Linked DNA regions of Homo sapiens: region 1 is linked to region 2. Evidence: fine-mapped expression QTL. A gene starts in region 2. The other region holds a variant in brackets. All regions are shown on one strand. Distances are from middle to middle.

Region 1 (8,713 bases), 51 kb after region 2:
CAGTATTGGCTGGGTACGGTGGCTCATGCCTGTAATCCCAGCACCTTGTGAGGCCAAGGCAGGCAGATTGCTGGAGCCCAGGAGTTGGAAACCTGCCTGGGCGACATGGCGAAACACCATCTCTATGAAAAATAAAATAAAATAAATTAGCCGTCAGTGGTGGTATGCTCCTGTAGTCCCAGGTGCTAGGGAGGCTCAGGTGGGAGGATCACCAGAATCTGGGAGGTTGAGGCTGCAGTGAGCCATGATTATGCCACTGCACTCCAGCCTGAGTGACAGAGGGAGACTCTGTCCCCAACTCCTGCCCCCACAAAAAAAGTTAAAGAAAAAGACACTGTGTTTTACTGGTGTTCTTTATATGTACACCATTTGCCTATGCTTTCTCTTCACCATACATGTTTTAATACTAAAAAAAATAAAAAGCATTATTTGTTTCATTTTACCCATAATCACATCTTCAGATCCTGAACAGGCAAAGCGTAAGAAAGGACAAAAAAGGCCAGTCTTCACTTTTATATACAGACTTAAAATATATGTAAATAGAAAGATGGATATCAGGGTCTCTAGTATTCTTGGCGTTGGGCCAGGTTTGTTATGGGTGGCAGTTGAGACACCCTCTCTTAGGACTGAGAAGGAGCCTCTCCAGGAATGGGTTGAGGAAGGCAAAGCAAGGGCATTTGTGATGACTGTGCTTGAGGGGATGGTGGTAGTCATGAGGCACTCTTACTGGGAGATTATGACTGGCATTCTTTTTTTTGTTTTTTCGAGACAGAGTTTTACTCTGTCGCCCAGGCTGGAGTGCAGTGGCGCAATCTCAGCTCACTGCAACCTCTGCTGCCCGGTTTCAAGCAATTCTCCTGCCTCAGCCTCCTGAGTAACTGGGATTACAGGCGCCTGCCACAGCGCCAGGCTAGTTTTTGCATTTTTAGTAGAGACGGGGTTTCACCATCTTGGCCAGGTTGGTCTTGAACTCCTGACCTCATGATCCACCCACCTCGGCCTCCCAAAGTGTTGGGATTACAAGCATGAGCCACTGCACCTGGCCATGTCTGGCATTCTTTAAAAGGATGGGATAAAACAGGAAGAGCTTCCTGGGTTCTGACCAGGGTTCTGGGTTCTGCTCCTTGAAGTTGCTCCAGGGCTTAGGTCGAAGTGTTTGTGAAACCCAGCCAAACCCTAGGATCAGTTGGAGGCCCACTCCTGAGCACAGGATCCATTCTAAGTGCATCTCTTTTTTTTTTTCTTCTTCTTTTTTTTTCTTCTTTGAGATAGAGTCCTGTTCCTGCGTCACCCAGGTTGGAATGGGGTGGCGCAATCTTGGCTCACTGCAACCTCTGCCTCCTGGGTTCAAGTGATTCTTGTGCCTCAGCCTCCTAAAGAGCTGGAATTACAGGCCACCACACCCAGATAATTTTTGTATTTTTAGTAGAGGCAGGTTTCATCATGTTGGCCAGGCTGGTCTCAAACGCCTGACCTCAAGTGATGGTCCTGCCTGGGCCTCCCAAAATTTTGGGATTGTAGGTGTGAGCCATGGCACCTGGCTTCTTTTTTTTTTTTTTTCTTGAGACAGATTCTTGCTCTGTTGTCCATTCTGGAGTGCAGTGGCATGGCCATAGCTCACTGCAGCCTCAACCTTCAACCTCCAGGGCTCAAATTATTCTCCGGTCTCAGCCTCCTAAGTAGCTGGGACTATGGGTACATTCCACCACGCCCAGCTAATTTTCAAAAAAATGTTTTGTAGAGGCGAGGTCTCACTTTGTTGCTCAGGTTGGTCTCAAATTCCTGAGCTCAAGTGATCCTATCTTGGCCTCCCATAGTGATAGGATTATAGGCATGAGCCACCGTGCCTGGCCACTGTAATTGCATCTCTTCCATGAAGTGTCAGAGAGAGATGTCACAGGTGCTTCAATGGGAGGTAGAGTGCTCTTTCGTCTCAGGGCTTTGGCGTCTAGAACCACCTCTGAAAAGCTTCTCCAGGAAGGCAGTGGGCAATAAGATCTTCTTATAGTTGGTTCTGCAGCCACGGGTCTTTGGAGCCATTTCCTCAGTTGGTCCTTTTGTATTATGTTTTGCCTCAGGAAGGTGCCACCTCTTTTCAAATATGAGCTCTTCCAGTATGATAGGAAGGAAAGGTGGTTGGCACAGGCTTTTCCTCTGTTGAACAGCAAGCTGATCTTTATTTATTTATTTGTTTTTTTGGTTGTTTTTTTTTTTTTTGAGATGGAGTCTTGCTCTGTCACCCAGGCTGGCATGCAGCGGCCCAATCTCAGCTCACTGCAACCTCTGCCTTCCAGTTTCCAGCGATTCTCTTGCCTCAGCCTCCTGAGTAGCTGGGATTACAGGCGCCTGCCACCATGCCCAACTAATTTTTCTATTTTTAGTAGAGACAGGGTTTCACCATGTTGGTCAGGCTGGTCTCGAACTCCTGATCTCATGATCTGCCCACCTCGGCCTCCCAAAGTGCTGGGATTACAGGCATAAGCCGCCATGCCTGGCCACATGGTGATCTTTATATGGTGGCCTCACTTTCTGTAGCTTACCCTCCATTTGTTGAATTCTCTGCTTACGTTTTCCCTTTCGGTGCAGCTGACTGCTCCTGTCTTGCTGTTTCTCCTCAGGTTCCTCCAGGTTTCCGTCTGATCATAAGTCCATTTAGGGCCTCAGTTTTCTGCCTCTAGGTTCATTTTCCAGGTGAATTTGGGCTGTCTGCAGTGAACCAGTTATGTTCCTGTTTCTTTCTTTTTTTTTTTTTTGAGACGGAGTCTTTCTCTTGTTGCCCAGGCTGGAGTGCAATGGCGTGATGTCGGCTCACTGCAACCTCCGTCTTCCGGGTTCAAGCGATACTCCTGCCTCAGCCTCCTGAGTAGCTGGGATTACAGGCACCCACGACCATGCCTGGCTAATATTTTTTGTATTTTTAGTAGAGATGGGGTTTCACCATGCTGGCCAGGCTGGTCTCGAACTCCTGACCTCAGGTGATCCGCCCGCCTTGGCCTCCCAAAGTGCTGGGATTACAGGCATGAGCCATTGTGCCCGGCCTTATGTTCCTGTTGCTTAATTTCTTCCAGTTCATGTATAGCTGATAATTTATTATTTAACTTGGGTTGAAAGGTCTGTATCTTTTCCAGCAATTGTTAAAATGTTTGCCCTGGAGATGGCCATACTCCAGCTTGTCTGATTTTCATCCTCTTATTCTGATGATCTTCTAACTCTTCACTGTCTATTTCACTGCATATGTGCCTTTTCATAGTTGATTGC[A/G]TACAAGAATTACTCATAACTCCAGTTTCACTCTTTGTGAGCATGCAAGTCTCCCTGTTTTGTTAGGAGATGACTGGTGTCTTTTGAGTTGTTCCTTTTGTGCTGTAGGTCTTTGACCCCCGCCTTCTGTTGTAGCAGCTGTTCCACATTCTTCTCACTCTTGCTCTTCTCTCTTGTCACTGGGGTGGGTGGGGGAGTCCACTCTTAGTTTCGCATCGTGGATGGGGCATGACTCTTTTTTAATCTCTGAAAGTGTGTTAATGATTCTTTTTTAAATAAATTTTTCTATAGGGAGTCTCTCTGAGCCTATTCTGGCTCAGCAGGCCCCATTCTAAAACAAAACTGAAAAAACAGGGTGCGGTGGCTCACACCTGTAATCTCAACACTTTAGGAGGCCAAGGCAGGAGGATTACTTGAGTTCAGCAGTTTAAATCCATCCCAGGCAACATAGTGAGACTCCTGTCTATATAAAAAAAGTACAAAAATTAGCCAGGTGTTGTGGTACACACCAGTATCCCAGCTACTCAGTAGACTGAGGTGGTAGGAGTGCTTGAGCTGGGGAGGTCCAGGCTGCAGTGAGCTGCAATCACACCACTGCACTCCAACCTGGGTGACAGAATCAGACCCCACCTCTACAAAACAAAAAGGAAAAGAAACAATTTTTTCTATAAATTTGTGGCATTACTACAGATGTCTGAATTTTCATTATGTTCTGTTCTTTATATTCTCTTATTTCTTTTTTTTTTGGAGACGAGTCTCGCTCCATCGCCCAGGCTGGAGTGCAGTAGCGCCATCTCGCTCACTGAAGCTCTGCCTCCCGGGTTCACGCCATTCTCCTGCCTCAGCCTCCTGTGTAGCTGGGACTACAGGTGTCTGCTACCATGCCTGGCTAATTTATTGTATTTTTAGTAGATACAGGGTTTCACCATGTTAGCCAGGATGGTCTCGATCTCCTGACCTCATGATCCACCTGCCTCAGCCTCCCAAAGTGCTGGGATTACAGGCGTTAGCCACCATGCCCGGCCATATATTCTCTTATTTCTTAGCTTCTACCACAATGAGCAGCTCTTTCATTGGCTTTTCTTATTTTTAATATAAAAATCTTTTTAAAATAGAGATGGGAGTCTTACTTTGTTGCCCAGGCTAGTATTGATCTCCAGGCCTCAAGCGATCCTCCTGCCTCAGCCTCCCAAAGTGTTGGGATCACTGGTGTGAGCCACTGCATCCAGCCTTGTTGGCTTTTCTAAAGTCAGGTGTAGTAAAGAATAATTTACACTTTATTAGCTTTTTTTATTGAGATGTAACTCACCGTAAGTTTCACCAATTGCAAGTATACAGCTCAATGGTTTTTACTCTATTTACAAGGTTGTGCAACTATCACCAGTATTTAATTTCAGAATATTTTTATTACCCCAAAAAGAAATTCTATTCCTATGAAGTAGTCACTCCTCATCCCTCTCCCCTTCCTATAGCCCCTGGCAACTACTATTCTACTTTCTGTCTCCCTGGATTTGCCTGTTCTGAATATTTCATATAAATGGGATCATACAATGTGTGGCCTTTTGTACCTGGCTTCTTTGCATAAGGTTTTCAAGGTTCATCCATATTGTAGCATGAATGTGTACTTAATTCTTTTCTATGGCTGGGTAATATCCCATTGTTTGGACATGCTACATTTTGTTTATCCATTCATCAATTGGTAAACATTTGGGGTGTTTCAAATAAGCCTGCTGTGAACACTTCTGTGTAAATTTTTGTATGGATGTAATGTTTTCAGTTCTTTTGGTTATATTCCTAGCAGTGAAATTGCTGGGTCATATAACTCTACATTTAACATTTTGAGGAACTTCCAGACATTTTTCAAAGTGGCTGCATTATTTTACTTTCCTACCAGCAGCATATGAATATTCTAATTTCTCCGTATTTTCACCAATGCTTGTTACTTCCTATCCTTTGGTTATAGCCATCCTATTGGATGTCAAGTGATAATCTCACTGTGGTTTTGTTTTGTATTTCCCTAATAACTAATGATTTTGAGCATTCATTAGCTTTTGAGGCTTTTAAGTACCTTAATTGTATTATTGTTATTTTATTTATTTATTTTAGAGATGGGGTCTTGTTATGTTCTTCTTGCTGGTCTTTAACTCCTGGGCTAAAGCAATCCTCCCACCTTAGCCTCCCAAAGTCTTGGGATTACAGGCGTGAGCCACTGATTCAAGCCCTTTGTATTTTTAAGTTTGTTCAATTTGTGAAAGAAATTGTCATTTTCTTGGTCTCTATTTTAATTTTTTTGGTTCTTCTTTTGATATTCTAGTGCCCTTTGAAGTTTTTAAAAAGTGGTTTTATACTTCTCATCAATTTGTTGTTCAGCCGTGTGATATAGCCTCCTGATTATGGAAGGAATCATCTGTAGATTAAAAAGGGACATGAACCAACCTCTACAATATTGTGGTGGAGGCTGCCAGGGCATTCTGTGAATGTCAGGCCTGGGTTTCTGTTTCCAGCAACACAGCCATGAGCATTTGGGCACAGTGTGTCACAGATTCTTTACCTCAGCCTCGCCTTTTCCACAGCTGTAAAGTGCTGTGGAGTTTCTGTGTTTATTTCTGATTGTTGTAAGGAGTCCATAAGAGTGTTTACACTTTGTCTAGGACTTTTAGTACAAGAATGCCTACTTCCATGTTTTCTGATGTCTCTTTCTCCTCATTTACTTCCTTGTTTGCTGACTTCACCTTTGGAAACTGTTTCTTATTTTGCATTGGCTCCATAGAGACTTCCTCTAGTAGTCTAGCAGAAAAAAAGATGTACCTAACAAAATGGACCCAGTATTGAACATCAACTGTATTTTGCAGAGACAGGGTTTTGTATTGTCAACCGGGCTGGAGTCCAGTGGCGCAATCATAGGTCACTGTAACCTCGAAATCCTGGGTTCAAGTGATCCATCTCGGCTTCTGGAGTCACTGGGACTACAGTTGCACACCACCCCGCTCCCAGCTGAAGTGCGCATTGCCGTTTTTGCCAGTCCTTTGCCACAGATTCTCCATTCAACTCTTGGTTGGCAGAAGTTCAGCCTCTAGTGTTTTATTTAAGTTCTTAGGAGAATTTTATTCCTGAAGTTCTTGAATGTTTGAAAATTGCTTGTTTCTTTTTATTCTTGAAGAATTGCCTGGTTGAGTGTAAAATTCTCAGATCTCACTTTTTCTCCCTGAGGTCTTTATTGCTTCACTGTCTTCCAACATTAAACATTGCTTCTCAATGTCTGATGGTAGTGTGATCTTTGCCCTTAAGGGTGACATGATTTTGTTGCATGGAAGAAGCCCTTCGTAATGGTCAAATGTGAAGGTTTAGTATAGTAACAACTCCAGGGTGTCTTGGATGATGGTTCCTTTCAGGTAGTCAGGCAGGTTATATATTAATTGTCCCCAACTATCAAAGAATGTAGGAAATCTGATCATTTTGTTTTGTCGCTGTCTTCAGTTTTGACATCCCAAGTCAAGTAATTACACCCTCCCACTAATTGTCCTCCATCACGTGATTCTTTAAATGTTCTTATCTTTTAGGCCCTCTTGGCGAATATGGCTGCCATGTTTGCAATCTACCATGGTTCCCATGGGCTGGAGCATATTGCTAGGAGGGTACATAATGCCACTTTGATTTTGTCAGAAGGTGAGTTGGTAATCTGTCTAAAACATTTGGGCATAATAAAATTGATAAATTTGAGTAAAATTGAAAATATTGCATGTCCAATACTATATGCAAAATTAAAAGTCAAGTGAGAAACGAGGAAAAATACTTTCAACATCCATGATTATTTTGTTGTTTTGCTTTCTTTCTTTCTCTTTCTTTTTCTTTCTTTCTTTCTTTCTTTCTTTCTTTTATTTCCTTTTTCTTGCTTTCTTTCTTTTTTTCTTGCTTGCTTGCTTTCTTGCTTGCTTGCTTTCTTGCTTTCTTGTTTGCTTGCTTGCTTGCTTGCTTGCTTCCTTGCTTAATGGAGTCTTGCTCTGTCTCCCAGGCTGGAGTGCAGTGGCACGATCTCAGCTCACTGTAACCTCCACTTCCCGGATTCATGTGATTGTCCTGCCTCAGCCTCTCAGGTAACTGGGATTAAGGTACACGCCACCATGTCTGGCTAATTTTTGTATTTTTGGTAGAGACAGGGCTTTGCCATGTTTTCCAGGCTGGTCTCGAATTCCTGACCTCAAGAAATCCGTCCACTTTGGCCTCTCAAAGTGCTGGGATTACAGGCGTGAGCCACCATGCCTGGCTTAGACTGAGTGTTAATATTTTTTTCTCTTTTACTCCTGGCAAGCTGTGATATTTTTAATATGTAGAACTCTTACTTTCCTACCGGCCCCAAACATAAGAAGGATGAACACCCTAATAGAAAAATAGGCAAAAGACATTAAATGTAATTTTAAAAGAAATAAGTATACAAATAAATGGCCAGTAGACATAGAATTTTAGCCTCATTATTAATGAAAGAGATACAAAATAAAGCAATAAACTAGTATTTATCCCATTACATTGGCAATCAGAAGAATGCTGCTATGTAGTGAGCTAGACATGGTTACTCGTGTATGTAATGTCAGCTACTCTGGAGGCTGAGCCAGGAGGATTGCTTGAGGCCAGGAGTTCAAGACCAGCGTGGGCAAGAGCGAGACCACATCTCTATAAAAAAATAGAAATAGGCCAGGCACAGTGGCTCATGCCTGTAATCCTAGCACTTTGGGAGGCTGAGGCGGGTGGATCACTTGAGGTCAGGAGTTCAAGACCAGCCTGGCCAACATGGTGAAACCCTGTCTCTACTAAAAATACAAAAATCAGCTGGGAGTGGTGGCATACTCCTGTAGTCCCAGCTACTCGGGAGGCTGAGGCAGGAGAATTGCTTGAATTTAGGAGGCGGAGGTTGCAGTGTGCCAAGATTGCTCCACTGTACTCCATCCTGGGCAACAGAGTGAGACTCCATCTCTCAAAAAAAAAAAAAAAAAGTGATTAAATCATGGTTCATCCATATGTTTGACTATTGTACAGCCATTAAATATGGTTTAAAATAGTGATCTATAGGAAAGCATAGATGAGACCAGGTGTGGTGGTTCACACCTATAATCCCATCGTTTTGGGAGGCTGAGGTGGGAGAATTGCTTGAGTCCCAGAGTTCAAGGCCAGCCTGGGCAACATGGCAAGATCACTGTCTTCAAAAAATTTAAAAAATTATTAGCCAGGTGTGATGGCATGAGTCCTTGATCCCAGTTACTTGGGAGGCTGAGGCAAGGGGATTGCATGAGCTTGAGCCCAGGAGTTTGAGGATGCAATCAGCTATGATCATGCCACTGCATTCCAGCCTGGACAACAGAGTGAGACTGTATCTCTCAAAAAAAAAAAGGTATAATTTTATATATATATATATATATCTGATACTACCTGCTCCCCCATTTCTTGAGAAATAATACACCAA
Region 2 (17,415 bases):
TCATAAATTTGCTCTTCGATAAATCCAAGGACTCTAGCTGGACACTCACAGGGCCAGTTAAGAGCTGAGTGGATTTTCTCTTTAAAGGAAGTCATACTGAGTTGTTAATGAGGCTTGGCATGGCAGTAATTGCTTTCAAAGGAGAAACTAGTTAACACAAATGTATCTTTAATTAGCTTATAGTGGGAAGTGATATTTTTGGACAGGGCCCCTGTATCCCTCCATTCCCTCCTTCCCCACTTCACACTTAGCCAGCCAGGAAAGAATATTAAGGTACCAACCTTGCATCTAAATCCTTTATAATTCTGCTTCTCTTGGGAAAGAAAGTATCACCTGGGAGCTAGTCCTGCTTGGCTGTTTTATTAGGAATCCAGAATCTGCATATGTCATATCTCATCTTTAGTAAAAGAATCTGAGAGGTCACAGCATGGCATTAAACCTAGTGCAATAACATTGACATTCATATAGAAACTTCACTTCTGGCTGGGTGCGGTGGCTCACGCCTGTAATCCCAACACTCTGGGAGGCTGAAGCAGGCAGATCACTTGAGGTCAGGAGTTTGAGACCAGCCTGGCCAACATGCTGAAACCCTGTCTCTACTAAAAATACAAAAATAAGGCCGGATGCAGTGGCTCACACCTGTAATCCCAGCACTTAAAGGAGGCCGAGGCTGGCGGATCACCTGAGGTTGGGAGTTCGAGACCAGCCTGACTAACATGGAGAAACCCCGTCTCTACTAAAAATACAAAATTAGCTGGGCGTGGTGGCACATGCCTGTAATCCCAGCCACTTTAGGAGGCCCAGGTGGGCAGACTGCTTGAGCCCAGGAGTTCAAGACCAGCCTCCGTCTTGCTCCATCACTAGGCTAAAGTGCAGTAGTGTGATTGTGGCTCAAGCAATCCTCCCACCTCAGCCTCTCCAGTTTCAGGGACCACAGGCACATGCCACCACACCTGACTAGTTTTCGCCTTTTTCATCCATGTCTCTGCAAGGACATGAACTCATTCTTTTTTATGGCTGCATAATATTCCATGGTGTACATATTATTAAGTCAAGAACTTTCACCTTTTCACTTAAAGGAAGTGCTTTACAGCTTCTCTGTGGCATATCCAAATTGCCAGCATCACTATTCTGAAATTTTGGGCCATTATTAAGTAAAACACAACACTGCAATATCCTGATGGTCAATCTGAGAATGGGACAACTGAGAAAGCTACGAAGTGACTGAGGGTGCACAGCATAAACAGCATGGATACACTGGACGAAGGGATGAATCACATCCCAGGCGCGATGGGGCAGGACAGTGTGAGATTTTGTCATGCTCCTTGGAACAGCATGTAGCTTAAAACTTATGAACTGTTGGCTGGGCACGGTGGCTCATGCCTGTAATCCCAGCACTTTGGGAGGCTGAGTCGGGTGGATCACCTGAGGTCAGGAGTTCGAGACCAGCCTGACCAACATGGAGAAGCCCTGTTTCTACTAAAAATACAAAATTAGCCGGGCATGGTGGTGCATGCCTGTAATCCCAGCTACTCAGAAGGCTGAGGCAGGAGAATCGCTTGACTCCGGGAGGCGGAGGTTGTGGTGAGCTGAGATCGCGCCACTGTACTACAGCCTGGGCAACAAGAGTGAAACTGTGTCAAAAAACAAAAAAACAAAAAAAAACCCAACAACTTATGAACTGTTTATTTCTGGAATTTTCCATTTATGGTTTCAGAAGGTGGTTAACTGCAGGTAACTGAAACCATGAAAAGCGAAACCACAAATAAGGGGGTCTACGGTACTCTTCCTCAGGGGCAGTCTGTGTATTGCAGCACCTTCAGTTGTTACTATGAAAGCCCTGCTGGTGCTGTAGTTAAGTTTTGGAAACAGGGTGTGTTCTATAATGTTCCAATTAAATACTGGTGTTTTCACAGCCCTCTGTCTTGGGCTATGAACTTCACAATTGTTTTTCCAGTGATATAGTTCCTTTCTCTTCTGTCCTGTGTTCTCTGGCTGCAGAGTCGCTGGTTGATTTCCTCTCAGCCCTGACCCGTTTATTCTGTTTTCTTTTATTTTTCCTTCATTATGTAAGACAAGAAGGCTGGAGGAGGCTAGAGTACGAGGCATTCCATTCCTCAGCTGGGATAAAGCTCTGGCACAGTCCCTTCCTTCGGAGAGTAAGCTTTTGCTATGAAGCAAGCTCTGGACATCCCCCTCAAACCTGTCCACACTCAGCCTTCCTTAATTTATCAAAAATATTACCATTTACGTGTTCCTACCTAATGTGTCAAAAAAATTTATTGATTTTCAATTTGTTCATTTTTTTTTTTTTAGAGATGGAGTCTTGTTCTGTTGCCCAGGCTCGAGTGCAGTGGTGCGATCTCAGCTCACTGCAACCTCCACCTAGTAGCTTCGAGAGATTCTCGTGCCTCAGCCTCCTGAGTAGCTGGGACTACAGGCACATGCCACCATTCCCAACTAATTTTTGTATTTTTAGTAGAGATGGGGTTTAGCCATATTGGCCAGGCTGGTCTTGAACTCCTGACCTCAAGTGATCCACCCACCTTGGCCTCCCAAAGTGCTGGGATTACATGCGTGAGCCTAGCCTTTATTTTTATTTATTTATTTTTAAGACAGGGTCTTGCTCTGTCACCCAAGCTGGAGTGCATTGTCAAAATCATAGCTCAATGAAGCCTCAAAATCCTGGGCTGAAGTGCTCCTCCTGCCTCAGTCTCCTATGTCCAGCCCAGAGTGGTTTTAGATATGTAGGGTTTACCATTATCTTATGTTCTAGTAACCTAAGATGCCTGGGTATTTTTGTGTCCTTAGTAAATGGCCACAGGTATCTTTGAGGGAGTTCAGAAGGAAGATTTATAGTATATTCTCATAGCCTGGTAAGATCTTTTTTCAAGAGTCCTTTTTCAACCTCCCCTTCATCTGGGTCTGTGAACTCTCTGAAGTCAGGGAATTGGTTGAAAAGCTGGGTCTCTCAATTTTGGAGACTTATATCAAGTTTTTGTTCACCAGATCAAGTTACATCTTTAGTAGTCTGCCCATCAATTTGTGAACACCAAAGATCCCCGTGGATCACCTGACGGGTTACCCCTCTGATCCACTGCCCATTATGACAACGTTGCTCATCTCCATTGACCAGTGCTGCCACTTGGCTTCTACCACTCCAGGATTCCATCATTAACATTAGAATCAAGGAGCCCATCTCAACAGTTCCATTGTGTACCACCATCTTATATCTGTAGAGGACCGCAGCCACAGGACTTTTCAAAAACACTGGTGCTGCTCTTACCAATGGACTTCCCAATACTCTGGTGAAGGGATTGTCCTCTGGTTTCTTCTGAGGGATACACTGAAAGTGCGGAAGAGTGTGTTACTCATGACAAATCTACTTCAACATTCCTTTCTCACCAAGACTTAGATCCTTCTCTATTATTCCAAGGACGTTCTAGGATTTCTTTTTTTTTGAGACAGGTTTTTTTTTTTTGGAGACATGTCACCCAGGCTGGAGTGCAGTGGCACAATCATGACGCATTGCAGCCTCAACCTCCCAGACTCAAGCAATCCTCCTGCCTCAGCCCCCAGAATAGCTGGGACCACAGAGGCATGCAACCACACCCAGCTAATTATTATATTTTTTGTAGAGACAGGAGTCTCACCATGTTGCTCAGGCTGGTCTAGAACTCCTGGGTTCAAGTGATCTACCCTCCCCAGCCTCCCAAAGTGCTGGGATTACAGGTGCAAGCCACTGTGCCCGGACAGAAGTCCTAGTATCTTAACCTAATTTAATGAAGGCACTGTTAAGTATGATTTCATCAATCAACTCAGCAAACTAAAAAGCCACTCCTGGCTGATTGAGCTAACACACTGAATCCAGAATCTCTCGTACTACAAATAAATCAATAATTTCAATTTTATATTCCTTTTTGTCTGGTTTAGAATCCACTCCCATAGAAACCCTCTGGTGATAATATATATTAGCAACATTTTGCAATTCTTTCCTTGTGTAAGCTTCTCCTCTGATGTCAAATGTTCTACTCATCTTCTTGGGGTATGGTTAAGATCTGATTCTGGTTGTGGATCTGAAAGCAAAGAAGCATTGACATTCCATTGCAAGGTTAGTGCCTTTAGCGAAGTCATTACAGGATCTTCATGCAAGGTATTGCCAGTTTATGAAAGAGGGCAGGAGGAATGGGTTTACCTATCAAAGGAGACTCAGTGGGATTTGGGGTTTCAAGATAATAAAATTCATTCCAAGCTACAAACATGTTCCCATTCCAAGTTCGAAGATTTCTTTCTTTCTTTCTTTGTCTTTTTTTTGTTTTGTTTTTTCCTTTTTGCGGAGAATGGGGTCTCGCTATACTGCCCAGGCAGGTCTGGAACTCCTGGGCTCAAGCTATCCTCCCTCCTCTGCCTCTCTGAGAGCTGGGATTACAGGCGTGAGCCACTGTGCCCAGCCCTTTCTTTTCTTTTTTTGAAACGGAGTCTTGCTCTGTTGCCCAGGCTGGAGTGCAGTGTCTCAATCTTGGCTGACTGCAACCTCCACCTCCTGGGTTCAAGTAATTCTCCTGCCTCAGCCTCCTGAGTAGCTGGGATTACAGGCGCCTGCCACCATGCCCGGCTAATGTTTGTATTTTCAGTAGAGATGGGGTTTCACCATGCTGCCCAGGCTGGTCTTGAACTCCTGACCTCAAGAGGTCCACCCACCTCGGCCTCCCTAAGTGTTGGGATTACATGCGTGAGCCACTGCACCTGGCGATTTCTTTCTCATTTAAGAGATGGAGTCTTCTGTTGCCCAAGATGGAATGCAGTGGTGTGATTATAACTAGGACCACAGGTATGTGTCACAATACCGGCTTTTTTTTTTTTGAGATGGATTCCCACTCTGTCACCCAGACTGGAGTGCAGTGGCGCAATCTGGGCTCACTGCAACCTCCACCTCCCAAGTTCAAGCGATTCTCCTGCCTCAGCCTCCTGAGTAGCTGGGATTACAGGCGCTCGCCACCATGCCTGGCTAATTTTTGTATTTTTAGTAGAGATGAGGTTTCACCATGTTGGCCAGGCTGGTCTCAAACTCCTGACCTCAGGTGATCCACCCACCTTGGCCTCCCAAAGTGCTGTGATTACAGGCATGAGCCACCGTGCCCAGCCCTGGCTAATTTTTAAATTTTTTGTAGAGACAGCCAGGCTATGCTGCCCAGGCTGGTCTCAAACTCCTGGTCTCAAGCAATGCTCCTTCCTCAGCCTCCTGAGGTGCTGAGATTATAGGCCTGAGCCACCATGCCAAGCCTTTTTTTTTTTTTTTTTTTAATTTTTAAATTTTTAAATAGCTGGGACTCCTGGAGCAGTACCCCCAAGACCTCATGGATACGAAGGGTTTCCAATTAATTCCAAAATTTCACTTATGGTCCAATTTCATCATAGTGCCTAAGAAGTTCATCTGAATTTATGCCATATTATCCATAGCCAGAATTCAGAGCAATTCTGGAATCAGACAATTTGACACCTGTAAACTGTTCAAGTCTAGGGTCTACATCAACACCCCCCAACTTTTTTGAGATGGGGTCTCGCTGGGCTCCCCAGGCTGGTCTAGAACTCCTGGGTCCCGGCTAGGACTACAGGCATGTGCCATCATGCTCAGCCCCATGAACAACTTCTATATGTATAGCTCTGCGTAAAAAGACCATTGTCAACTGCACATATATAAGTTTATTTATTTATTTATTTATTTTTGAGACAGAGTCTCACTCTGTCACTCAGGCTGGAGTGCAGTGGTGAACTCGGCTCACTGCAACCTCCACCTCCCAGGTTCCAGCGATTCTCTGCCTCAGCCTCCCAAGTAGCTGAGACTACAGATGTGTGCCACCGCGCCTGGATAATTTTTTTATTTTTTGGTAGAGATGGGGTTTCACCACGTTGGCCAGGTTGGTCTCGAACTCTTGACCTCAGGTGATCCACCCACCTTGGCCTCCCAAAGTGCTAGGATTACAGGTGTGAGCCACCGTGCCTGGCCCCTTTATTCATTTCAAGGGCTATGGTTCCCGAAATGTCACCAAGTTTGTTACATTACTGTCCACTTTCTTCATCCTCTTCTCTTTTTCTTTTCTTCTCTTTGCTTTTTTCTTCTTATTTTTAAGTCTTCTTTCTTTTAGACTTTACATAAGAATATTCTGATGAATGCCAGTTGTGGTGGCTCATGCCTGTAATCCCAGCACTTTGGGAGGCCGAGGCAGGCCGACCACAAGGTTAGGAGTTCGAGACCAGCCTGGCCAACATGGTGAAACTCCATCTCTACTAAAAATACAAACAGTAGCTGGGCATGGTGGCGGGTGCCTATAATCCCAGCTACTCGGGAGGCTGAGGCAAGAGAATTGTTTGAACCCGGGAGGCGGATGTTACAGTGAGCTGAGACTGCGCCATTGCACTCCAGCCTGGGCAGCAGAGTGAGACTCTGTCTCAAAAAAAAAAGAAAAGTATTCTGATGAGACTTCTGAATAAGAGGTGGAAGCTGGCTCAGGACAAAATATTTGTGCTAGAGCAGAACGGGCAGGGGAGGAACAAAAGTGGAGGCAGGCCAGGTGCGGTGGCTCACGCCTGTAATCCCAGCACTTTGGGAGGCTGAGACGGGCGGATCACCTGAAGTCAGGAGTTTGAGACCAGCCTGACCAACATGGAGAAACCCCGTCTCTACTAAAAATATGAAAAAATTAGCTGGGCGTGGTGACGCATGCCTGTAATCCCAGCTACTCGGGAGGCTGAGGCAGAAGAATCGCTTGAACCTGGGAGGCGGAGATCGGGACATTGCACTCCAGCCTGGGCAACAAGAGCAAAACTCAAAAAAAAAAGAAAAGGGGGAGGCAAAGGAAAAAACTCCCTGAAAGCTCATACAATGGCAGGGAGTGAATGTGTCTCTCAGGAATCTCTTGCCTTTTTCACCCAAACATTAAGCCCTCCTCAATCTGCTTTTGGCTTCCATTATAGCCTTTGTTTGGGTTTATTCAGGAAAACTAACTGTTTTGAAAAAGCACTATAACTGTGCTTCCTCTGGTCTCACACCACACTACAACAATCAACACAGAAGATTTCCATGATCTGGCTGGGCGTGGTGGCTCATGCCTGTAATCCCAACACTTTTGGAGGCCAGGGTGGGCGGATCACTTGAGGTCAGGAGTTTGAGACCAGCCTGGCCAACATGGGGAAACTCCATCTCTACTAAAAAAAAAAAACACAAAAATTAGTGCGTGTGGTGGCATATGCCTGTAGTCCCTGCTACTCTGGAGGCTGAGGCAGGAGAATTGCTTGAAACTGTGAGGTCGAGGTCACAGTGAGCTGAGATCGCACCACTACACTCCAGCCTGGGCAACAGACCAAGGCTCTGTCTCAATGGAAAAACAGAAAGAAGAAGATGACTTCCATGATCCCGAAATATATGGGGATTTCTCCCCACCAACAAGCAAGCAGTCGGTTCTGAGGCAGACACCAGCTGGGTGCACTCCACTTCAATTCTGACACTCTATCTAGGGATACCGCCAGATCCCAAGGGTTGAGGGCTCAGTCCCCAAGACATCAGTTGCAATTCTAGGCCTCCAGAACTTCTGACGGATCAGCTTGAAGCTGGGGTTTCCATGATCCCTTCTTTGGGTTTGATTAATTTGATAGAATAGCTCACAGAACTCAGGGAAACACTTATGTCTACTGATTTTTTATAAAGGATATTACAAGTAACACAGATGAAGAGATGCGCAGGGCGAGGTAGGTATGGGAGAAGGGGTGAGGACCTTCCATGGCCTCTCCCCATGTGCCACTTTGTGTGTATTCAGCTATCCAGAAGCTCTCTGAAACCTCTCCTCTTGGGTTTTTGTGTGTGTGTTATTTTTGTTTTTTTTTTGAGACCGAGTCTTCCTCTGTTGCCCAGGCTGGAGTGCAGTGGCATGATCTTGGCTCACTGCAACCTCCACCTCCCGGATTCAAGTGATTCTCCTGACTCAGCCTCTTGAGTAGCTGGGACTACAGGTGCCCGCCACCACGCCCGGCTAATTTTTTGTATTTTTAGTAGAGATGGGGTTTCACGGTGTTAGCCAGGATGGTCTCGATCTCCTGACCTTGTGATCCGCCCACCTTGGCCTCCCAAAGTGTTGGGATTACAGGCGTGAGCCACCGCGCCCGGCCAATTTTTGTATTTTTAGTAGAGATGGGATTTCACCCTGTTGGCCAGGCTGGTCTCAATCTCCTGACGTCAAGTGATCCGCCAGCCTTGGCCTCCCAAAGTGCTGGGATTACAGGCATGAGCCACCACGTCCGGCTCTTGGGTTTTTATAGAGGCTTTATTAGGAAGGCATGATTGATTAAGCATTGATCATTGACCCTCTGCCCTACTGAGAAGTTGAGGGTGGGGCTGAAAGTCTCAACTCCCATTATGTCTTTGTCTTTCCAGTGACCAGCCCTATTCTGAAGCTGTTAGTCACATTAGCATACAAAAAGGCAGGAGTCTGGAGATTCCCAAGACTTTAGGAGTTGCAGGCCAGGAAATGGGATGAATACCAGATATGTATTTCACAACATCACACAGACAAATAAACAAAAAACACTCAATGCATTTCAAGCAGAGGAGAATTAAATGTCAGGAATGGGTGCATACAAAACCACTGGAAGAACTGGAAGAGCAAAAACCAGGGAATACCAACGCTATCTTCAGGTCAACCACTGAAGCTCTAGTCTAGTACACAGAAATTCCTGCTGGGGAACTGCAGGACATTCCCATTGGTGGATACAGCTTCCCAGCTACCTCAAGATGGGGTGCTGGTAAGGAAGCATGTCATGTCTGCAGTGGTCCATGCATCTGTCTGCTGCAGTCAGAAAATAAGAAAACAGTTTTTACCTTTGTTCCATTTCCCAATTCTCTCTCTCTCTCTTTTTTTTTTTTTAGGCAGAGTCTTGCTCTATCACCCAGGTTGGAGTGCAGTGGTGCGCTCTCCGCTCACTGCAACCTCTGTTTCCCAGGTTCAAGTGATTCTCATGCCTTAGCCTCCTGAGTAGCTAGGACTACAAGCACGCCCACCAAACTTGGCTAAATTTTTTTTCATATTTGTAGTAGAGATTGAGTTTCGCCATCTTGGCCAAGCTGGTCTTGAACTCCTGTCCTCAAGTGACCTGCCCGCCTCGGCCTCCCAAAGTGCTGGGATTACAGGAGTGAGCCACCGCACCCGGCCCCAATTCTCATATACATATATGTGTGTATATATACATGTTTTTTTTTGGCAGAAGGCAAATAACATCCATCACCACGGAGCCAAAGGGATCTGGGAATTATTGTTCCCTGGCTTCCAGTCCCTCTGATACATAGAAACAACATAGACAGGAATAGGAATAAATGCAGATTACCTCCTCCCTCCAATCCTTCCCCACAACCCCCACCATCTGGCACTGAGGAGATCTCCCAACTTTTATGAAGGTTGTAATTTCAATTCCAAATGGCCGAAAAACTTTTCGGAGACATTCAGCCCAGCCGTCCTAGCTCACCACCCGCCTCCGTCTGCCATACAGACATTTTACCTACTGTTCTTTGTGGTGTATTTTCCTGCCCTCTTTTCCATCTCTACTTTCCTGCCTCTCTGGATAGTCTGTGCCTCCTGGGTACGGAGCCCAGAATCTGTTAAGGGTGATTGGAGGAGGAAACTTAGCAGATAAGCAAGAAAGAGAACAGGTTTTATTTTCCCCTAGTCTAAGTACAAGTAATGTTCTGATTACTTCTGTCCTCTCTTCCCCATATTAGAACAACTGGAATTTTAAAAGTTCATTCTCTTGCTAAAACTGTCATGAGACAGCTGGAGATGGTACATTTACAAAAAATCCAGTTCTAGATGGCTAACTTTCAAAGTAAGACGACAGTGAACAATGTCTATCTTAATATCCTTTGTACTTTTGCTGGGCGCAGTGGCTCACGCCTGTAATGACGGATCACGAGGTCAGGAGATCGAGACCATCCTGCCTAAAACGGTGAAACCCCGTCTCTACTAAAAATAAAAATAAAAAATGGCCGGCCGTGGTGGCACGTGCCTGTAGTCCCAGCTACTCAGGAGCCTGAGGCAGGACAATCGCTTGAACCCGGGAGGTGGAGGTTGCAGTGAGCCAAGATCGCGCCACTGCACTCCAGCCAGGGCGACAGAGCGAGATTCCGTCTCAAAAACAACAACAAAATATCCTTTGTAGTTTTACACACACACGTATATGTATATACAGTACATATATTTAAAAAAACATATACACACACACACACAGTTCTTTTTTTTTTTTTTTTCCTGAGTCTCGTTCTGTGGCCCACGCTGGAGTGCAGTGGTGCGATCACATCTCACTGCAGCCTGAAACTCCCTGACTCAAGCAATCCTCCCACCTCAGCCTCCAGAGTAGCTGGGACTTCAGAAGCACGCAACCACGCCCCACTAATTTTTGTATTTTTTGTAGAGACAGGGTTTCACAATGCTGCCCAAGCTGGTCTCGAACTCCTGGGCTCAAGCTATCCTACCGCGTCGGTTTCCGAAAGTGTTGCGATTACAGGCGTGAGCCATAGCGTTACATGTGGTGGGGGGGAAGAGAGAGAAAGAGAGAGAGTGAGAAGAAGGAGGAGGAGGAGGAGGAGGAGAAAGAAGGAAGAAAGAAAAGAAAAGAAATATAGAGAGGGTGTTCAAATCTACTGTTCAAGTGCTTTCCATGTACATATAATCTCTTTTTAAAATCCCATCCAGCTCTGTTGAGATGAGAAAACTGAAGCTCTGAGAGGTTGAGTAACTTTATCACGCTCCCGCAAAGATAAAAGAACCGCCATCTGCCCATATTAATTTCCCTGAGATGAAATGTGACAGAGAAAGATACCTCAAAATTAAGGAAATGGAGAGCTTCGAGAATCATCTTCCATCTCCGCCGAGTCCCCCAGGAACTTGGCCCGGAGTCTTTGGGCTGTCCCACCTGATCTTGCCCCAGTGCGGCTCCACACCCTGGCGGGCGGCGTACGGAGCGTCCCGGCCCCCGGCACCAGCCAGCGTCGGAGTGGGTAGGACTGGAGATGGCAGCCTCCGGTCCAGGGGAAGCGGGACTCCACGGAAGGGCTGGGAAGAGGGTAGGAAGAGGGGGCGGGGGCGGGAACTGTTCCGCCCCCTCCCCCTCTGTCTACTTTCATTGGCCAAGGGCTTCCTGGCCCCAACCCACCTCCCGCCTCCAGGGCGCCGCTTAAAGTGTGCGGAGCAGGTGCCTTGGGTGGAGCCACAACTTTGCGCGAGTGTCTTGGTTGAGCGCAGCGCCCATTCATTGCCCGCGAGCGTCCATCCATCTGTCCGGCCGACTGTCCAGCGAAAGGGGCTCCAGGCCGGGCGCAGCCGCCACCCGGGGGACCGAGGCCAGGAGAGGGGCCAAGAGCGCGGCTGACCCTTGCGGGCCGGGGCAGGGGACGGTGGCCGCGGCCATGCAGTCCTGTGCCAGGGCGTGGGGGCTGCGCCTGGGCCGCGGGGTCGGGGGCGGCCGCCGCCTGGCTGGGGGATCGGGGCCGTGCTGGGCGCCGCGGAGCCGGGACAGCAGCAGTGGCGGCGGGGACAGCGCCGCGGCTGGGGCCTCGCGCCTCCTGGAGCGCCTTCTGCCCAGACACGACGACTTCGCTCGGAGGCACATCGGCCCTGGGGACAAAGACCAGAGAGAGATGCTGCAGACCTTGGGGCTGGCGGTAAGGACCTCCACCCGGCCCTCCGCGGCCTCCCCTCCGCCCTGCCCGGGCTCTGCCTGCGCGGCCTCCCGGCTCCTACCCTGAGCTCTGCTGCGCTCCGCGTGGTCCCCGCACCCTGGGTCCCGGGCCGTGGCGTGGAAGCAAATTCGTGCCTTTGGTCCTCGTGCCTTCTTACTTCTTAACAGCTTACTTTCTCCTGCACCCAGTCTTCGTGCCTCAAAAGTGTACATTTTTAAACCACCCCCAGCCCAAGTGGCCCTGTGGATGGACCTAAACTTTGCAAGAGGAGGAAGACCCCCTGATTAAGAGTGGGCTTACCGGTTAGCTCCGGTTGCAACTGAAATCCAACCCCGAGTGGCGGAATCTCCACCCCACTTCACGATTTTCTTTCCTCCAAATCATTCTGGCTTGCTCAGAGTTTTCCTTTTCTTTTAAAAAGAACCCTAATTAGGCGATTTCAATGAGGTTCCCACAAGGCTTTGTAGTCGCAAAACACAGAGGTGACTCTTTTAACTCAGAGGCACTTTCCTCTGCCTTGCGTTTTAATTTTAGAGCATTGATGAATTGATCGAGAAGACGGTCCCTGCCAACATCCGTTTGAAAAGACCCTTGAAAATGGAAGACCCTGTTTGTAAGTGGCCGGGAGGGCTCCCTTGGACTTAGATTATTCTGGCCTATTTGTCTTTTGTGGTTCCCTGAAAATCGAGCTCTGGGGTAAGGATTGCTCAGGACTGGGAATGTGTGGATTAAAATAAAACAGTGGCGGGTACCTCCGGAGCCGCGGGAAGGTGGGATATTTGGTTCTCGGAGCAGACAGTTTTGTGTTAGGAGAGAGTCGGTGTTGTGCGGTTCTTGGTCTTTATCCTAGGGCCCCCGCGAGCTTCCCCTGCGTTTTGTAGCAGATTCCCCACTTCCCAGGCACCCTCTCACCGGCCAGGGTGCTCTCATACTTTGGGTTGAGAGGTGTCATTACCTGCGCAGACCCGGATAGACTCAAAGGATCTAGGAATTGCCTAAGGTCGTGCAACTGGGGAAGTGACCAGACATCTCGCCTCCCTCCCCCAGGCTTCTTTAGATCGCAGTATCTTCCAATTGTTTTCTTACCTCACGTCCAAATTTTATTATTTACCAACTGAAAGACAGCAGTACTTTTCGAGTCCGAATGGTTTTTCTTTTCTTTTCTTTTTTTTTTCGTTTTTTTTTTTTTTTTTTTTTGAGACAGAATCTCTGTCGCCCAGGCTGGAGTGCTGTGGCTTGATCTCGGCTCACTGCAACCTCCGCCTCCCTGGTTCAAGCAATTCTCCTGCCTCAGCCTCTTGACTAGCTGGGATTACAGGGGCGCACCACCACACCAGGCTCATTTTTATATTTTTATTAGAGACAGGGTTTCTTCATGTTGGCCAGGCTGGTGTCGAACTCCTGACCTCAGGCAATCCGTCTGCCTCGGCCTCCCAAAATGCTGGGATTACAGGCACGAGTCACTGTGCCCTACCCCGAATGGTTTTTCTAGAAAAACACACAAATAAGATTTACATTTGTTTAAGAAAGGTCAGTTTAGTCATAGACTTTCTTAGAATTTTATTTTAGGTTTAAAATATTTTTAATGGTCCAAGATTGCTTTTCAGGGGTATTTTTATGTGGGTATTTGACTTCCATGGGGTGGGGGGACAATCCATAAGTCAAGGGCACAGGCTGAGCTCTTAAAAAAAATCTCATCTGGTTATCTCACTTTCAATCATGGAGATACTTATCTCTTTTTCTTCTAGAGTCAAATGAAGAGAGAGCAGCTGTTTTATTTTGTTGCTATGATAGAAAGGATCTAGTGTGCAGATGGCAAGCTTTATTTTGTTTGAAGGTGGACATTTGAGGTATGGAGCCTATCTGCTTCAGGTTGGCTGCTCAGGCTATGCTGAGGGCTGCTGCCTTTGTTGGTTTCAAATCTGATGGTCGTTGAAAACCTGCATGTTTTGCTGAATTGAACTAATTGAGATTTAGGGATGGTCGGAGGGAAGCCTTATCTATTTCCATTTTAGAAAATCAGAATCCTGGCTGGGCACGGTGGCAAATGCCTATAATCTCAGCATTTTGGGAGGTCTAGGCAGGTGGATCGCTTGAGGCCAGCAGTTTGAGACCAGTTTGGGCAATATTGCGAGACCCCATCTCTACAAAAAATACAAAAATTAGCCGGGTGTGGTGGTGTGCGCCTGTAATCCCAGCTACTCCGGAGGCTAATGTGGCAGAAACACTTGAGCTGGGCAGTGGAGGTTGCAGCGAGCCAAGATGGCTCCACTGCACTTCCACCTGAGTAACAGAGTGAGACCCTGTCTAAAAAAAAAAGAGAAAGGAAGAAAAGAAAAAATCAGAATCCTAATTCATTTGATGTGTGAAGAGTGAAGAGTTGTGTATCTTTAAAGCAGGGTATTTTAGGTGAATATTTGAACAAGTGAATCCCTTCCTGAGACTTTCAAAGTCAGGGAATGTTTAGGTTAGCTATTTTTATAATATATATACTCTAAAATAAAGTGTTCTTTTCAGAGCATTAGAGCCTGGGAAACATGGCAAAGTTGTGTATCCTTTTTTAGTTTAGTTCTTGGTTCCAGCTGAATAATTTGAACATTAAGGGATTCTGATTCTTCACTGTGGAAGTGGGCTCCTGAAAAGTAATTTGCAACTTGAATATAAACTTAATTTTTTTATTTTTTATTTTTATTTTTGAAATGGATTCTTGTTCTGTTGCCCAGGCTGGAGTGCAGTGGCATGATCTCTACTCACTACAACCTCTGCCTCCCCGGTTCAAGCCATTCTCCTGCCTCAGCCTCCTGAGTAGCTGGGATTACAGACGTGCACCACCATGCCCGGCTAATTTTTTGTATTTTTAGTAGAGATGGGGTTTCTCCATGTTGGCCAGGCTGGTCTTGAACTCCTGACCTCAGGTGATCCACCCACCTTGGCCTCCCAAAATGCTGGGATTACAGGCATGAGCCACCATGCCCATGCCATATAAATTTTAAACCTAGCAGCTTCTGTGACATTTTGAGCTTGTTCCATCTAGTTTGGGATGATTCACGCAGAAAATATTGCACAATCAGAAGTCCCCCCATTCCCTGAAATGGACCAGTTCTCCAACAAAGCTTGTTTCTTGGAATAGTGAGCTGGGGGTGTTGGGAGAGTGGAGGAGGATGCATCTGCAAAGGATGAATTTTGACTCTGAGGTGTGCACGTGTCATGGTGAATGAATATTCTCCAGGTGGGGAGAGCAAATTGGTGCATGTAAGCTCTGGTAGTAGCATTTCCATTTAATAGTGGAGCACCATTACTCAAACTTGGCTTCATGTGAATGCCTGTGTTCTAGTGTAGTCAGAAAGGAATTCTGGATTAAATATTTATTTGCCATGTACAGAGAAAACTGTAGTGAGAGCTAGTTATAGGAGTGTTAAATGTCTTCATTGCAGAGTAAAGATTGTGATCAGTTTGGAAATACTTGGGTTACTTATTACACATAACTCAGTAATCTCAGACATTTATGTAGTGCTTACCATGTACTGGACACTCTTTAACGTGCTTTCATGTATTAATGTATATTACAACCCTATGAGGAAAATACCATTAATACTTCTGTTTTAAAAATGAAGAAACCGTGATATTCAGATGATGCATGACTTGCCCAAGGTCATAGCTGGTAAGTGATGGAGGCAGAATTCAAACCCAGGCAGCCCAGCTCCACTGTCCACACTCCATCCACTACTTTGCTCTCTCTTCATTTTGTCCTTTGCAAGGTCGTGGGTGTACAAAGTGGAAAACTTCTGTCCTGACTCACCTGGAATATCCAGTTTACAGATGTGCACAAACCCAGTTGCACTAGAATCACCCTGCCATATGCCAACTGCCCCAGTGGAAACGCAGCAGCTTCCTGGCAGCACAGACGTGGGAACACTCAAGCCTGCTGCTAGGGCAAGGGAAGGGGTCACGGAAGTGCAATACTGAAGAATGAGCAGTGATGCTCTGCTAGATAAATCTGGGGGAGGCTGCTGGAGGTAGTGGGATTAACATGTATAGGACAGAATGGCCGGACAGAACCAGGGGAGGACGGGTGGTTCATCAGTCACTAAGGATGCTCCCCCTCTTCTTGGACAATTCAGAAAGTGCCTTGACAAAATACTTTGATCATGAACTGGCTGCTAAGTAAGTCATTATTCAGAGAAACAAGCAAAGCTATTCAGTTCAAAATCCTGTCCTGCTCAAGTGAATCCTGCATTCCCCATCCACACGCACTCAACAACAACAAAAGGACTAGAAGGATATGTGTCACTGGCAACACTGATTTCTCTGAATGGTGCCCTTATTAGTGGTTTTAGCTTTCCTTTAATTACTTTGCAGTTTTGGAATTTTCTGCAGTGTAGGTATTCATTTTATAATTAATTCAAAGTTAAAAATTACTTTATGACCAAAGCCAGTTACTTTTAGCTATGGTATGCCTCGCTGTGTAGTCTTTTCAGTGAATTCATCTCAAGGCAACTAGACTGAACTAGACTGAACTAATCATAGATAAACTGCAGGGATTAAAGTTTACACAAAATTGCACATTGCTTGTGGAAGAGAGAGGAGAAACTAAACCCTCCAATGTTCACATTATTCAACTAGAACTGAGGAGATGAGTTGTCAGAATGATGGACTTGTGCCAGCTGAATGTTCCAGAGTGATTTCTACTAAATGGTTAATGGAGGGCAGTGAGCGGAGGGAGGGAGCATTGTGTAATGCAGCTGCAGGTGTTGGCTTTGTCACCCTAGTTGGGTTGCGCACTCTCCTGAACTGACCCCAGGGGCAACTAGGCCGTGGCAGCTGTTCCCCAGGCCGAGGCCACGACTTGTCTTTAGCCAGATGATGCCCATTGCCAGGTCCTGCCTGTAGGCCCCGCAGTCTGTGACAAGGCTTTCCTTTGGCCATTCCCGACTCATTCAATTCCCAGCTTATAGGAATTATTATTTCTTCTTTAGGATGATTCCAATAAATTTCCATTAAATGACTGTAACAGTAAAGATTAGCTAAATGAGAGAAACAAAGGCTGTAATGAGCTTGCTGTAGCAAGGGAGTCAGACTTGCATATTGGCAGAGGAGAGGAAAGCTTTATTGTGGAAAAAAGGGAAGCCTTTAGGTGTGTTCTGATTGGAGGTTGTTTACAAGGGAAGCTGTCTGAGGATTTACTAGAAGTCGGGCAACTGATGTGATTGGTTATGGGTACATGTTTGGCTTAGCCTGGTTGGTCCTATGTTGGAAGTGGGACAAAAATTAGGGAAGCTATCAGTTATTAATCGAGTTCTGGCCATTTGGGGCCAATTGTTAGGGAAGTTGTTGTTCGGTTTCCTGGATTGTCACTAGAGATAGCAATCTGGCTTTCTCTGTAAGTCTAACTTGTAGCAGGCTGGCTTCCTTGATTGTTTATTCTAAGTAAGCGGGTTAGTTTCCTGGACAGGTGTGGGTGAAAGTTCTATTTTTAAATATGGTCTGGTAATTGTCTATTTGTATATGTAGTCCCTCACAGCAGAATCTGTTTTGTCCATATATATATATATATATACTTTTTTTTTATGGTGAAAAGATATATATATATTTAGAATTAGGCAGCTGGACTCAGTTTAGATGATCCCAATTTTGTTGGCAACATCCAAAGCATCATAATCAGGAGCCAGTCGAACATATACCTTCTTCTCTCC

What was found.
Region 1: its variant is fine-mapped to the expression of GLDC in whole blood (TOPMed, PIP 0.97).

Annotation. Positions count from the first base shown.
Region 1 is chr9:6,593,225-6,601,937 of GRCh38, reverse strand. It overlaps GLDC (glycine decarboxylase), which reads left to right. Exons shown (of 25, transcript NM_000170.3): 9 at 6,819-6,924. Among named protein-coding and RNA genes, the nearest start is that of GLDC, 48 kb to the left of the region's middle. RefSeq lists an enhancer at 3,251-3,490. The variant A/G (reference allele first, on the strand shown) is at 3,259.
Region 2 is chr9:6,639,534-6,656,948 of GRCh38, reverse strand. It overlaps GLDC (glycine decarboxylase), which reads left to right and starts at 11,220. Exons shown (of 25, transcript NM_000170.3): 1 at 11,220-11,704; 2 at 12,257-12,335. The coding sequence starts at 11,450. It also overlaps the pseudogene RPL23AP57. RefSeq lists enhancers at 8,115-8,670, 8,671-9,226, 10,213-10,312, 10,363-10,472, 11,453-12,010 and 1 more and silencers at 11,143-11,392, 11,463-11,662, 11,703-11,772.